3 separate regions of the Homo sapiens genome follow, and regions 1 and 3 are each linked to region 2. The links come from fine-mapping of genetic effects on gene expression. A gene starts in region 2. Each other region holds a variant in brackets. All regions are shown on one strand. Distances are from middle to middle. Region 1 has its middle 31 kb from the start of LINC01341. Region 2 holds the start of LINC01341 (long intergenic non-protein coding RNA 1341). Region 3 has its middle 37 kb from the start of LINC01341.

The links. PIP is the estimated chance that this variant, and not a neighbour inherited with it, causes the effect. A credible set is the group of variants that fine-mapping cannot tell apart.
Region 1: its variant is the best candidate, but not a certain one, in a credible set for the expression of LINC01341 in spleen (GTEx, PIP 0.87).
Region 3: its variant is the best candidate, but not a certain one, in a credible set for the expression of LINC01341 in subcutaneous fat (FUSION, PIP 0.58).

The regions. Positions count from the first base shown.
Region 1 is chr1:246,818,130-246,822,257 of GRCh38, reverse strand. No RefSeq gene overlaps it. Among named protein-coding and RNA genes, the nearest start is that of LINC01341, 31 kb to the right of the region's middle. The variant C/A (reference allele first, on the strand shown) is at 2,390.
Region 2 is chr1:246,787,372-246,791,499 of GRCh38, reverse strand. LINC01341 (long intergenic non-protein coding RNA 1341) reads right to left here and starts at 1,883. Exons shown (of 2, transcript NR_015422.1): 1 at 1,802-1,883; 2 at 14-1,054. RefSeq lists a silencer at 2,563-2,642.
Region 3 is chr1:246,824,228-246,828,355 of GRCh38, reverse strand. No RefSeq gene overlaps it. Among named protein-coding and RNA genes, the nearest start is that of LINC01341, 37 kb to the right of the region's middle. The variant A/TA (reference allele first, on the strand shown) is at 2,113.

The sequences.
Region 1 (4,128 bases), 31 kb before region 2:
GGTGCAATCTCGGCTCACTGCAACCTCCGCCTCCCAGGTCCAAGTGATTCTCCTGCCTCGGCCTCCTGAGTAGCAGAGATTACAGGCACCTGCCACCACACCTGGCTAATTTTTTGTATTTTAGTAGAGATGGGGGTTTCACCATGCTGGCCAGTCTGGTTTCGAACTCCTGACCTCAGGTGATCCACCACCTTGGCCTGCCAAAGTGCTGGGATTACAGGCATGAGCCACCGCGCCTGGCCCATATTACTTGTTTAAAGTTTTCAATCCATAAAAATTAAGCACACACACAAAATGTTTTCCGAAATCTCCAATAGCACTGAGAAAACAAAACAGCAAAACTAGTTACTTTTACTTGGTAGGCATGTGTTAGGTTTAGCACACAGCTTCTACAGTAGAGTCAACATCTGTTACACTAATATATTTCTTCTGGTAAAAGTACAGTCACAGTGTTCTGGGAAACCACTGGTGAGACTCCACATTTTAAAGTCTAGAGCTCCCCTAACCCTTTTGGTGGAATAATTTTTATCCCTTTCTCAAATATTACATGAACGTTGGTTATTGTCTATTGTCCTCATGTAAATCACACTATGTTGGTATGTGCATTTTCCCCAGAAACATGAAATAAATTATACAAATGTATATATCGTAACAAATGGAATAATGCTTAGTGCTTTACCATTGCTATTAGAGAGTAGGAAGAAATATACACTTTGAAACAGCCTCAAATAAGATAACTATTGCGGTCTATGGTCACAGCCCAGATGATAAAAGGAGGCAGACCACATCCCCTCTCTTTCAGCAACAGTGGGCACAAACATTTCTATTTTAACTTAAAAAAGGGGGATGCACGTGTGTGTGTGTGTGTGTGTGTGTGTGTGTGTGTGTGTTCCAGAACCACTGGAAAAAGCAGAAAAAGAGAAGAGCTCACTAGCAGAGGACTAAAATCAGTGTGGCTATATTGTGATGTTATTGTTTGAGTCAACGAATAAAGTAGTAGAAAATGCTTTGACTGGCTTCTGTGCCTTGATATTTTTGTCTAATTGCTTAATTTTAAAGACCTGGCCCGTGTTTTGGCAAGGCTATGAACTATGCAATTTCATGACCAACAGGGATTAGCTAGTTTAGGATGTACCCGATGTGATCCATGAATGTAAATGATGAGTGTTTTCCAAATTGACAAATCCTTTCAGTTTCACTCCACCTGTTCTAAGCCGGCATCTGAGTTGTATTTCAAGCAGGTCATACGCTATGAATCGAGGTGGGATTTATGAAAGTCAGGATACTTATTCAGATTTAAGAGGACTCAGAAAGTAGGGAAGAGGAAATCTGCATGCCACTGGCCTGTGCTGAATATGCCACCTGTCATCTTTCCAGAGAGACGTCTTCCATGACCTTGGCAGGGGAATTCTGGACAGTGCTTGGCAAGGCTATAATGCAACTCTCCTAGCCTATGGCCAAACTGGCTCTGGGAAAAGCTATTCCATGATTGGGTTTGGTGCAAACAGGGTATTATTCCAACTGTGTGTGAGGAGCTCTTTCGAGCAATCGAGAACCAGGGGAGAAATCAAGAACACCAGGTACGTATTCTCGAATCCTTTCTTTAAGGGATTGGATTTTTTCATTCTGGACCCCTTCCCCAAATGGAAGTTCTCAGCATCTCTATTTTAGGATAATGTTTGTTTTTTATACCAAAATGTTTGTATGATTACAAAATCATGTTGCAGCTAAATAAGATGTTGGATTTTTCTGGTTATATGGAGGCAAATCCAAGGAAACTCACTCTGGTGTAATATTCTAGAAGCAGACATCTTAATTGCTAACACTAACAAGGGATTATTATTGGATATTGTTATTTGGTTTATAAAACAAAACCTTAGCCGACTCACGTCTGTGGCTCCCTTTGCCACCCTCTTCTGCCAAGGCTGTGGCTCTATTCTAGTCTTAATCAACTTGTTTTTATTTCTGAAGAATATTACTTCGTTTTTAAATTGTTTTTTTACACAGAGCATAGCCTCTTACTCGCCCTAGCATACGAGACCCAAGACCAAATTTTAGATTCACTGAACGCTGGTGACATTTTCAAGGTGGAGTGTACCATTAACATAATTAGCTTTAAAACATAACAGGAAAATGTCAGCAAATGCCTATAAGCATAGTTCATGGTTCTGCTTTCTTAAAATGGTAGGACTGTTTAAGCTGGTGTTATGAAAACGCAATAGAGCATTATTTTTTATCTTATTTTTCTGATGTTAATGGTAACATGTTCAAGTTAGAGAATTTTATAATATCACCTAACTACCATTAACATTTCAGTACATTTCTAATGTTTATTCATTTAGATTTTTATATTTATATTTTGTAGAGACTGGGGTCTTGCTATGTCACC[C/A]AGGCTGGTCTCAAACTCCTGACCTCAAGCAATCCCTCCTCCTTGGCCTCCTAAAGCTCTCAGATTACAGACATGAGCCACTGTGCCCAGCCTCTAATTTTTAATTCAAATATTTTCAAAGGCATACAAGTCTAGTTTAAAACCTCAAATAGCCAAGAGAAAGAATATGTCCACACAAAAACTCGTACATGAATTTTCCACGGCAGCATATCTGTAACAGCCACGAGGTGGAAACAGCCCAAACACCCATCCACTGATGAACAGTTGAATAAAATTGGTCTATCCTTACAACGGATGATTCAGCCTTAAAAAGGAATGAAATTCTAACACATTACAATGTGGACAAACCTTGGACATGTCATTCTAAGTACAAGAAGCCAGAGAAAAAAGACCACACACTGTATAATTCCATTTGAATGAAGTTTCCAGGAGAAGCAAATCTATAGAGATAGAAAAGAAATTGGCAGCTGCCTTGGGCTGGATGTTGTAGGGAGGGGAGGGGAGGGGAGGGGAGGGGAGGTGTTACAATGGCTTGCTTGTTTTTGCCCTTTGTTTTTTGAGACACAGTCTTGCTCTGTCGCCCAGGCTGGAGTGCAGTGGCGCGATCTCGGCTCACTGCAACCTCCGCCTCCCAGATTGAAGCAATTCTTGTGCCTCGGCCTCCTGAGTAGCTGGAATTACAGGCACACGCCACCACGCCTGGCTAATTTTTTTTTGTATTTTTACTAGAGACGGGATTTCGCCATGGCCAGGCTGGTCTCGAACTCCTGGCCTCAAGTGATCCGCCCGCCTCAGCCTCCCTAAGTGCTGGAATTATAGGTGTGAGTCCCTGTGCCCCGCTTTTTTTGCCCTCTTAATGGCACCCATCTCCCCAACTTCCCAAACAAAGGCCTTGGATGTCAGTCCGCCTGCCTTGACCCTGTGCCCCCCCCACCCCATGGGCGGCCTCCCATTTTTGCTGTGTTCCTCTGGTGATGGGAACTCAATGTGCTCACCAAGCAGCCCCGGTCATCAGAAAGCTGTGTCCCTGAAGCCTTCCATCTCCCGTGCAATTCCCACAACACGCATGCGCGCGTACACTGTCATGACGCAGCGTTCTGGGCAGGGCAGAGCTGGAGCCGGCGGGTAAGGCGGTGGGGCTGGGACTGCGGAAGCACAGGGCACCTGAGCAGATCGTTCACTCCAAGGGGTCAGGAGCCTCTCAGGACAGTCCGCGTTGGGGGCACTTGGCTGGCCCCTCTGTGCTCTCCACCGAAAAAGTGACTTGATCTTTTGTAAAAACTTGTTTTTAATTTTGTATAAAATAAAGGTGGTCCATGCCCACGGGGGCTGTAGGAAATCCAAGCAGACCAGCTGGGGTGGGGGGATGTAGCCTACCTCGGGGGACTGTCTGTCCTCAAAACGGGCTGAGAAGGCCCGTCAGGGGCCCAGGTCCCACAGAGAGGCCTGGGATACTCCCCCAACCCGAGGGGCAGACTGGGCAGTGGGGAGCCCCCATTGTGCCCCAGAGGTGGCCACAGGCTGAAGGAGGGGCCTGAGGCACCGCAGCCTGCAACCCCCAGGGCTGCAGTCCACTAACTTTTTACAGAATAAAAGGAACATGGGGATGGGGAAAAAAGCACCAGGTCAGGCAGGGCCCGAGGGCCCCAGATCCCAGGAGGGCCAGGACTCAGGATGCCAGCACCACCCTAGCAGCTCCCACAGCTCCTGGCACAGGAGGCCGCCACGGATTGGCACAG
Region 2 (4,128 bases):
GCGTAAATGTCTGAACTCCAGTGATGAGGCCGCAACCTTTCCCACAGGATCCCTGGGCCCCATGCAAAAAAGGGTTTGGATGCACACGGGTCTCCACATCCAGAACATTCCATGATGGCCAAGGAGTGCAGGAACATGGAACATGCTAAGGCAGGGAGCCAGTCATTCAGGACACACAGATGACATCGGTGCAGGGGAGCAGGGCGGGGAGAGGGGATGCCAACCTGACACCCCGACGTCCAGCCCCAAATCCTATAAGGTCTGAATTTATACGGCGAGGGCGCAGAAACAGATCAAAACGTACCCGGAGTAGGTGAGGCTCGTTAAGAGTCGCCTCCTGAGCGTCTCTTCTGAAGCTTGCTTGCTGCCATCTTCCCACCACCCCATCCCGCTGGCCTGGGAGCGGGAGGACTCCAGTGTGGCCTTGGCCGGCTCCCCGCAGTGCTAGGCCCTCAGCTGGTGTTCGTTCTGTTAATGAAGCCCTTGCCTGCTGTCTCCCAGCTCCCCGTGCTCCCCAAGGGCAGGGTCCTTCTGCGCCCGCTGCTGTCCCCATGCATCATGGGCCACAGCACACAGGAGGCCCCGAGATGCCACCTGCCATCCTCCGCAGCTGTAGACCTTCCCTCCTGTGCACATGAGAAAGGTCAGCCTACCTGCTCACGGAAACCGCCGTTTGCTGGGTGTCTTTGACTCTCATCTTCTTAGAATTTCAGATAAACACGCTTCCTTCACAAATGCCGACGGTAAAGTGACGGTCACTCCACATAGCAAATGCAAGGTTGCCGTTAACGGGGTGCCCATCACCACCAGGACAAAGCTGCAGCATTTGGTAAACTTTCCTGCAGGCTCACAGAATGTCCTAGGTCCCCCCCAAGAGCTGGGAGGGGACAGTCATGTGAGGTGCCCACATCACAGACGTGGCAGGATGGGGCGTTCACACCAGCTCCTCTGCCACCATGGCTTGGGGACAACATGGCACCACTGCTGGAGGGACAGGCCTGCTCCTGACTCACTGTGTGGTCTTGGGCAAGTCACTTCACTCCTCTGACCTCACCTGGAAAACAAGGAGGGCTGAACTAGGTGTTCTCCAAGGTCCCTTCCAGCTCTAACATTTTGTGCCATTTTAGATTTTTCTAAGAGCCTGTCACTGAGAGGGGTTGAACAGCATCTTGCAAACATCGCTGCCTCTTCCTCCCCAATCTGCCAACCCTGGGGCCCCTGCCAGCTTCCCAGCAGCCCTCTCCCCTCCCTGGTGGCCACAGCCTTTCAGACAGGACAGGCAGATGGGGATTGGCCGCTCCCCATTTGGAAAGCCCCCTCAGTGACCTCCCTCGGCCTCCTGTCCCTGGCCACACTGCCCTTCTTTTGGTTGTTCAGCAGCCGTCTCTGCCTCACCAAGACTTACCGCCCAGGAGGGCTTAGCTTGGGCATCACGCCTCGGAAAAGGCCGTCTGTAGCCTGTAGTCTGAGTTAGGTCCTGGTGTCCCCTGCAGCCATTGCTGCACTCACCCAGACCAGCCTGGAAAGCGTGGAGGGAGGGCCTGGCTCTGGGTGGTCCCCACAGAACCCCAGGGCCAAGGGAGTCACGCCCTCAATGTGTGCAATGAAGGTGAACGCAGGAGCCAGAGGCCACCTCCCTCCTGTCTGCGTCTCTCCCTGTCTGGGGGATTCCTGAGGGGAGGACATTCCTCAGATCCTTCTCACTGGGGAGGTTCACCTCACCCTCCTTGGCCTCGAACCCCTCCTGAGCCCACCGTCTCCTCCCCAGGACCGCCTGATTTTGGGATCCAACAGCACCTACCTGTACGTGGGGTTTCCTTCGGAGTGGGGCAGTGAGGACCTGAGCAGGTTCGATTACGACTTCTTCCAGCTGGAGAGGGCGGCTGCGGAGGGAGCGAGTGCAGACAAACTCGGTGAGCCCCCTCCTGACTGCTGGCCTCTCCCGTGTGCTGATCTGAGAGCAGCGATTTCACACTGTGTCTCTCTGCTTTCCTTAAGAACATCATCATTTGTTTTGTCAAAGTCTGATGTTTACAAAATTGAATTATGATTTCCATATAGAGTGACTACATGGTAAACATTCAACTCGTTAAACGTTCCCTGAGGAATGAGGGTAAAGATGGTTCAAAGGGGTAGAGAAGAGAGTGGGGTACCCAGCAAATGAGAGAAGAATGCTGAGCTGGAGAAGCCAGTTAGTGGCCTCCGGCCGCCCCCAGGGGCCTGCTGGGCCTGCAGAAGCAGTGGCCCAACTCCAGAGGGGCCGGCTGGGGCCTGCTGTGGGCTGCAAATGCGCGGCCCGGAAGAACGTGCAGCCCGAGGCCTCTGAGACAGAATCTCCCCTCCTCGCCCGAACGCAGCCCCCAGCAGTAGCCCACGCGGGCCGCCCGCCGCTGCCGGTCTCTGCTGGGGCTTTCGCGCGCCTTCCCCGCCCCTCTCCCCGCCCCGATTCACCGCGCTCCGGGCGGCTCCCCCAGAATCCTGGCCAGGCCGGAGCCCGCTGCGATCTGAGTGACCTGCGGGCTTCCCGGAGGGGCCCCACGCTTTGCTCGGCACCGGGACTCTGCCTGAACTCGCAGTAATGAAACCGCTGGTGGAAAGTGGGCAGATCCACCTGTGTGTGTGCAAGAGCTCCTCCCTGTCCCCACACCACAGTGTTTCTCTCAGAATTTCAGCAAAATAAATCGATTAGAAATTCACCTCCTTGCTCTTCTTCTGCTGAAGTTTTCGACTTTTAAAAATGAACAAGGCCGGGCGCGGTGGCTCACGCCTGTAATCCCAGCCCTTTGAGAGGCCGAGGCGGGCAGATCACGAGGTCAGGAGATCGAGACCATCCTGGCTAACACAGTGAAACCCCGTCTCTACTAAAAATACAAAAAAGTAGCCGGATGTGATGGCACACACCTGTAGTCCCAGCTACTCAGGAGGCTGAGGCAGGAGAATTGCCTGAACCTGGGAGGAGGAGGTTGCAGTGAGCTGAGATCGTGCCACAGCACTCCAGCCTGGGTGACAGAGCGAGACTCCATTTCAAAACAAAACAAAACAAAACAAAACAACGAACCAGTAAGACTCTGTCATACCAGGCCCGGAAAAGCCATCTGTTCATTGACCTGTCCTCAGAGGTTGACCGTGCCACTGCCCCTGTGGCCCTGGTGGCGCCATGAAGCTGAACCAGCCCCAGACCCTGGCTCGGACCCTAGGGAAGACTTGGGTCCCCAACAAGGCAGCAGCTGTGTGAGCAGTTTGGGGTCAGACCTCAGGGCCAAGGGCACTGTGTGCACCCACAGGCCAGGGGTCTCTAAGAGTTGAGATTTCCTGATTAGAGGCAGTACCAGCCTGGGTTTGGGAGGGAGATTGATCCTCCCATAATCTCCACGAGCCCCTCCTTCAAGCCACCCCAAGTATAAGAGAAGCACAGGTCACTTGCTGTGCCAGCAGCAGCTTGAGGATACCTCCAGGCCTTCCGTCTAGCCAGCCATGTTTCACCTCGCCCCACCCTCCTCCAGTCTGGAGCCACCTTGGGTCAAGGACCCTGAGACCAAGAATGGGAACTGGGGGCAGAGGACCTCCTGCCTGCGGCCAGGATTCATGGGTCGAGATAAGCAACCACGTAAGGAGAAGCCAGGCAGTGTCATTTTCCCTTGTTTGTTTTTAAATTACATGCTTGTAATTTTAAAATGTAGATATTTGATGAACAGCTGAACAAATGAATGAACAAATAAGCATACACATTTATTCATGGCGGCTGGGCGTGGTGTCTCATGCCTGTAATCCTAGCACTTTGAGAGGCCAAGGCAGGAGGATCGCTTGAACCTGGGAGTTCAAGACCAGCCTGGGAAACAAAGTGAGACCTCATCTCTACAAAATATTTTAAAAATTAGCCAGGCATGGTGGCTTGCACCCGTAGTCCCAGGTACTCAGCAGGCTGAGATGGGAGGATTGCTTGAGTCTGGGAGGTGGAGGCTGCAATGAGCAGAGATCATGCCACTGAACGCTAGCCTGGACGACAGAGCAAGACAGCTGTCTAAAAAAAAAAGAAAAAGGGCTTGGCATGGTGGCTCATGCCTGTACGCCTGTAATTCCAGCACTTTTGGAGGCCGAGGTGGGCAGATCACCTGAGGTCAGGAGTTC
Region 3 (4,128 bases), 37 kb before region 2:
GTTTTATTAACATCAGTTAATAAAAACATTAAAAATCCATTACTAGTAAACATACATAATATAAAAATATTTTTATGAAAAGTAATTTTTTTTATTATTTATTGATTTATTTATTTTGAGATGGAGTCTCACTCTGTCACCCAGGCTGGAGTGCAGTGGCGCAGTCTTGGCTCACTGCAACTTCTGCCTCCCAGGTTCAAGCGATTCTCCTGCCTCAGCCTCCCAAGTAGCTGGAATTACAGGTGTGTGCCACCACACCTGGCTAATTTTTGTATTTTAGTAGAGATGGGATTTCACCATGTTGGCCAGGCTGGTCTCGAACTCCTGACCTCAAGTCATCCGCCCGCCTCAGCTCCCAAAAGAGCTGGGATTACAGGTGTGAGCCATCACGCCCGATCTATTTTTATTTTTCTTTAGAGATGAGCTCTTGCTCTGTTGCCCAGCCTGGTCTCGAACTCCTAGGCTCAAATGATCCTTCTGCCTCTGCCTCCCAAAGTGATGGGATCTTAAGTGTGAAACACCATGTCAGGCCAAAAAATAGTACTCGAGCCGACACTGAAGAGAATGGCACTGCTTTCCATTTTTTGAAATCTCTGTAATGTCTGACTTCATGAAAGAGCTTGATTCTCTGCCCTGCATGTCATCTATAAAATCACGTTACATAGCCTCTGGCAAATCCCACTGCACACGTTACTCCACTCTACGCTCATGAGAGGATGAGAATGAAAAAAGCAAACATTAGTACGATCACAAAAGGAAGTGTCACTTTACAAACACCCTGAAAAGATCTCACAGACCCTGGAATGCACTGTGTGAACTGATGCCCTAGAGCAATCAATACAAAATAAATAAATAAAACAAGTATAACTAACTAATGAGTCAAGTGTGGGGAAACGGAACTATAAAACATTCTTTACCCCTCTTATCCTGCCATGTTTGGGATTTAGACACAGAGGAGATGGGATAAGTAGAATACAAATAGCAAGACAGTAGATTTAATGCCAATAATTTATATCAATTATTATGTAAAACATAAATAGTCTAAACATGACCAATTAAAAAGCAAAGATCATCAGATAAGATAGAAAAAGCAGGATCCAACTATATCTGTCTACAAAATGTGTGTGTGGGTTGGGGGTGGTTTAAGTGCTTCTGTATCACAGGATTTTTAAAAACCTGGTTTACATATTTAAAAAAAAAGCATGAAAACACTAACAAAAAAAAAAACTAGAGGCTACATTTACATCACATTGCATAGGCTTCAGAACAAGAAATATTTAATAATGAGGAAAGAGTTCATTAAGGAAACATAGCCAGCCTGAATGGGTATGTACCTAAAAAATGAGCTTTAAAGTAAACAAAGCAAAAATAGAAACAGAAAAATAGACAAATCTACAACTGTATTTAGTGATTTCAACACTCCTAGCTATCTCAGTAATTGACAAAACTGTCATATTATAGAAGAGCAGAATAATATCAACCTAATTGACAATTATATCATAAAACATGTCAACCACTTCCCACCCAACCACAGCACACGCATTCTTTCTTTGTAAGTACACACAGAACATTCATCATGATAGACAGTATTTCAGATCATAAAACTCGCCTCAATAAATGTGAGTGTAAGAGGACTGAAATTGGCTGGGCATGGTGGTGTGTGGCTATAATCCTAGCACCTCGGGAGGCCAAGACAGGTGGATCGCCGGAGCCCAGGAGTTTGAGACCAGCCTGGATAACATGACGAAAAACCGTCTCTGCTAAAAATACAAACAATTAGCTGGGCATGGTGGTGCGCGCCTGTGGTCCCAGCTACTTTGGAAGCTGAGGTGGGAGGATCACTCGAGCCCAGGAAGTCAAGGCTGCAGTGAGCCGTGATTGCACCACTGCACTCCAGCCTGGGCAATAAGAGTGAGATCCTGTCTCAAAAAAAAAAAAAAAAAAAAAAAAAAAAAAAATTGAAATCATATGAAGTATGTTTTCTGACCACACTGGAGTTAAACTAGAAGAAAAATATTTGGGAAATTCACAAGCATTTGGAAAATAGCAGACTTCTAAATAATCCATTGGTTAAAGAAAAAACCACTAGGGAAATTAGAAAACATTTTTTTT[A/TA]ACTGAATGAAAATCAAAACACTACTTACAAGGAAGAGGCCAGAGAAACAGTATTACAAAAAATAAAAAATAAGTTTAAAAAAATGTTTAAAAGACAAAAAAAAGGCAACTCAAGACACCTGTCAAAATGTGTAGAACAAGCATGGAGTATGCAGTCAGGATAGACAAATATATACACACACACACATATACACACACATACACACACACCTATACACACCTATACACACACATACACAAATATACACACACATATACACACACAAATATACACACAGATACACACACATATACACACAAATATACACACAGATACACACACATATACACAAATATACACACACAGATAACATATACACACAAATATACACACATATACACACATATACACATATACACACAGATACACATATACACACATACATATACACACAAATATACACATATACACACATACATACACACATACATATACACACATACACACAAATACACATACACACTACACATGCACACATATACACATGTACACACATACACATACACGCATACACACATATACACAAACACACAGAATACATATGCACACACATACACACATACACATACACACATACACAAACACACATACATGTATACAGATACACAAATACACAGACATACATATACATATATACAAATATACATATACACACACAAATACACACACCCATATACACACATACACACACACATATATACACACATATATTTTCATATGTGGGACGCATCTAAATGGAGCTGGGGGAGGTTTTCTAGCAGTCAAGCTTACATTAGAGAATCATCATCTCAACTTGGCATTGTAATCTTCCAGTTAAGAATTTAAAAAGAGAGCAAATTAAACATAAAACAAGCAGCAGAAGAAAAAAGATAAAAGTGATAATTAATGAAACGAAAAACAGTAAAACAATAGAGAAAAAACACTGAAACCTAAAGCTGGTTCTTTGAAAACATCCATAAAATTGATAAGCCAAATACCAAGAGCATAAGTGATCCCAGGGACATTAAAAGACTGAGAAGGCTGGGTGGCTCACAACTGCAATCCCAGCACTTTGGGAGGCTGAGGCTGGAGACTGCTTGAGGCCAGGAGCTTCAGGCCAGCCTGGGCAAATCTCCCTTTTTTAAAAAGAGTGATTAAAAATATTTTGAACAACTTAATGCCAATACATTCAACAACAAATGGACACAAGCTACTGAAGTTCATGCAAAGAAATAGATGACTCAAATAGTCCTGTATCTATTAAATAAATTGAATTTGTACCTAAAAACCTCACAAAGAAACTCCATTTCCAGGTATCTTTGCTGGTGAATTCTACCAAAGAAAGAAATAAAAAAAAAATGCAGATCATAGTAAACACTCCCATTTCATTTTACAAAGCCAGTATTCCAACAAGAGCAGCCAAAGATATTACAAAAACACTATAGGCCATTATCTTTCATGAACACAGACACAAAAATTATTATCAAAGTTTCAGCAAACACAATCGAATCATATATCGGGTGGGCCTTAATATATTACTGTCACTATCAATCAAGCCCAATCACTATCAAGTGGGCCCTTTCCTGGGAATGTAAAATTGTTTTAACATTTAAAGTTCATGATCTAGAATAGAATATAGGAGAAAAAATATGATTGGCTGCAAAAAGAATGACAAAATTTAACCCTCAATCATAAAATTCTCAACCTCTCAACAAATGAGAGGAAGTTTCCTAGAAATAGAACTTGCCTGGAAAGCAGCTTCCATCATGTTTGATGGTGAAGCAGGTGTTCTCCATAGGACGGCAGGCAAGCCAAGGGTGTCTATTCCCGTCACTGCTATACAACATTCACTACAAGTTCTAGCCAGGGCAAAGACCATTGGTAGGAAATAAGAAATACGCTGATTGAGAAGAAGTAGGCTGGGCAGGTGGCTCACGCCTTTGGGAGGCCAAGGCAGGAGGATCACTTGAGGTCAGGAGTTCCAGACCAGCAGCCTG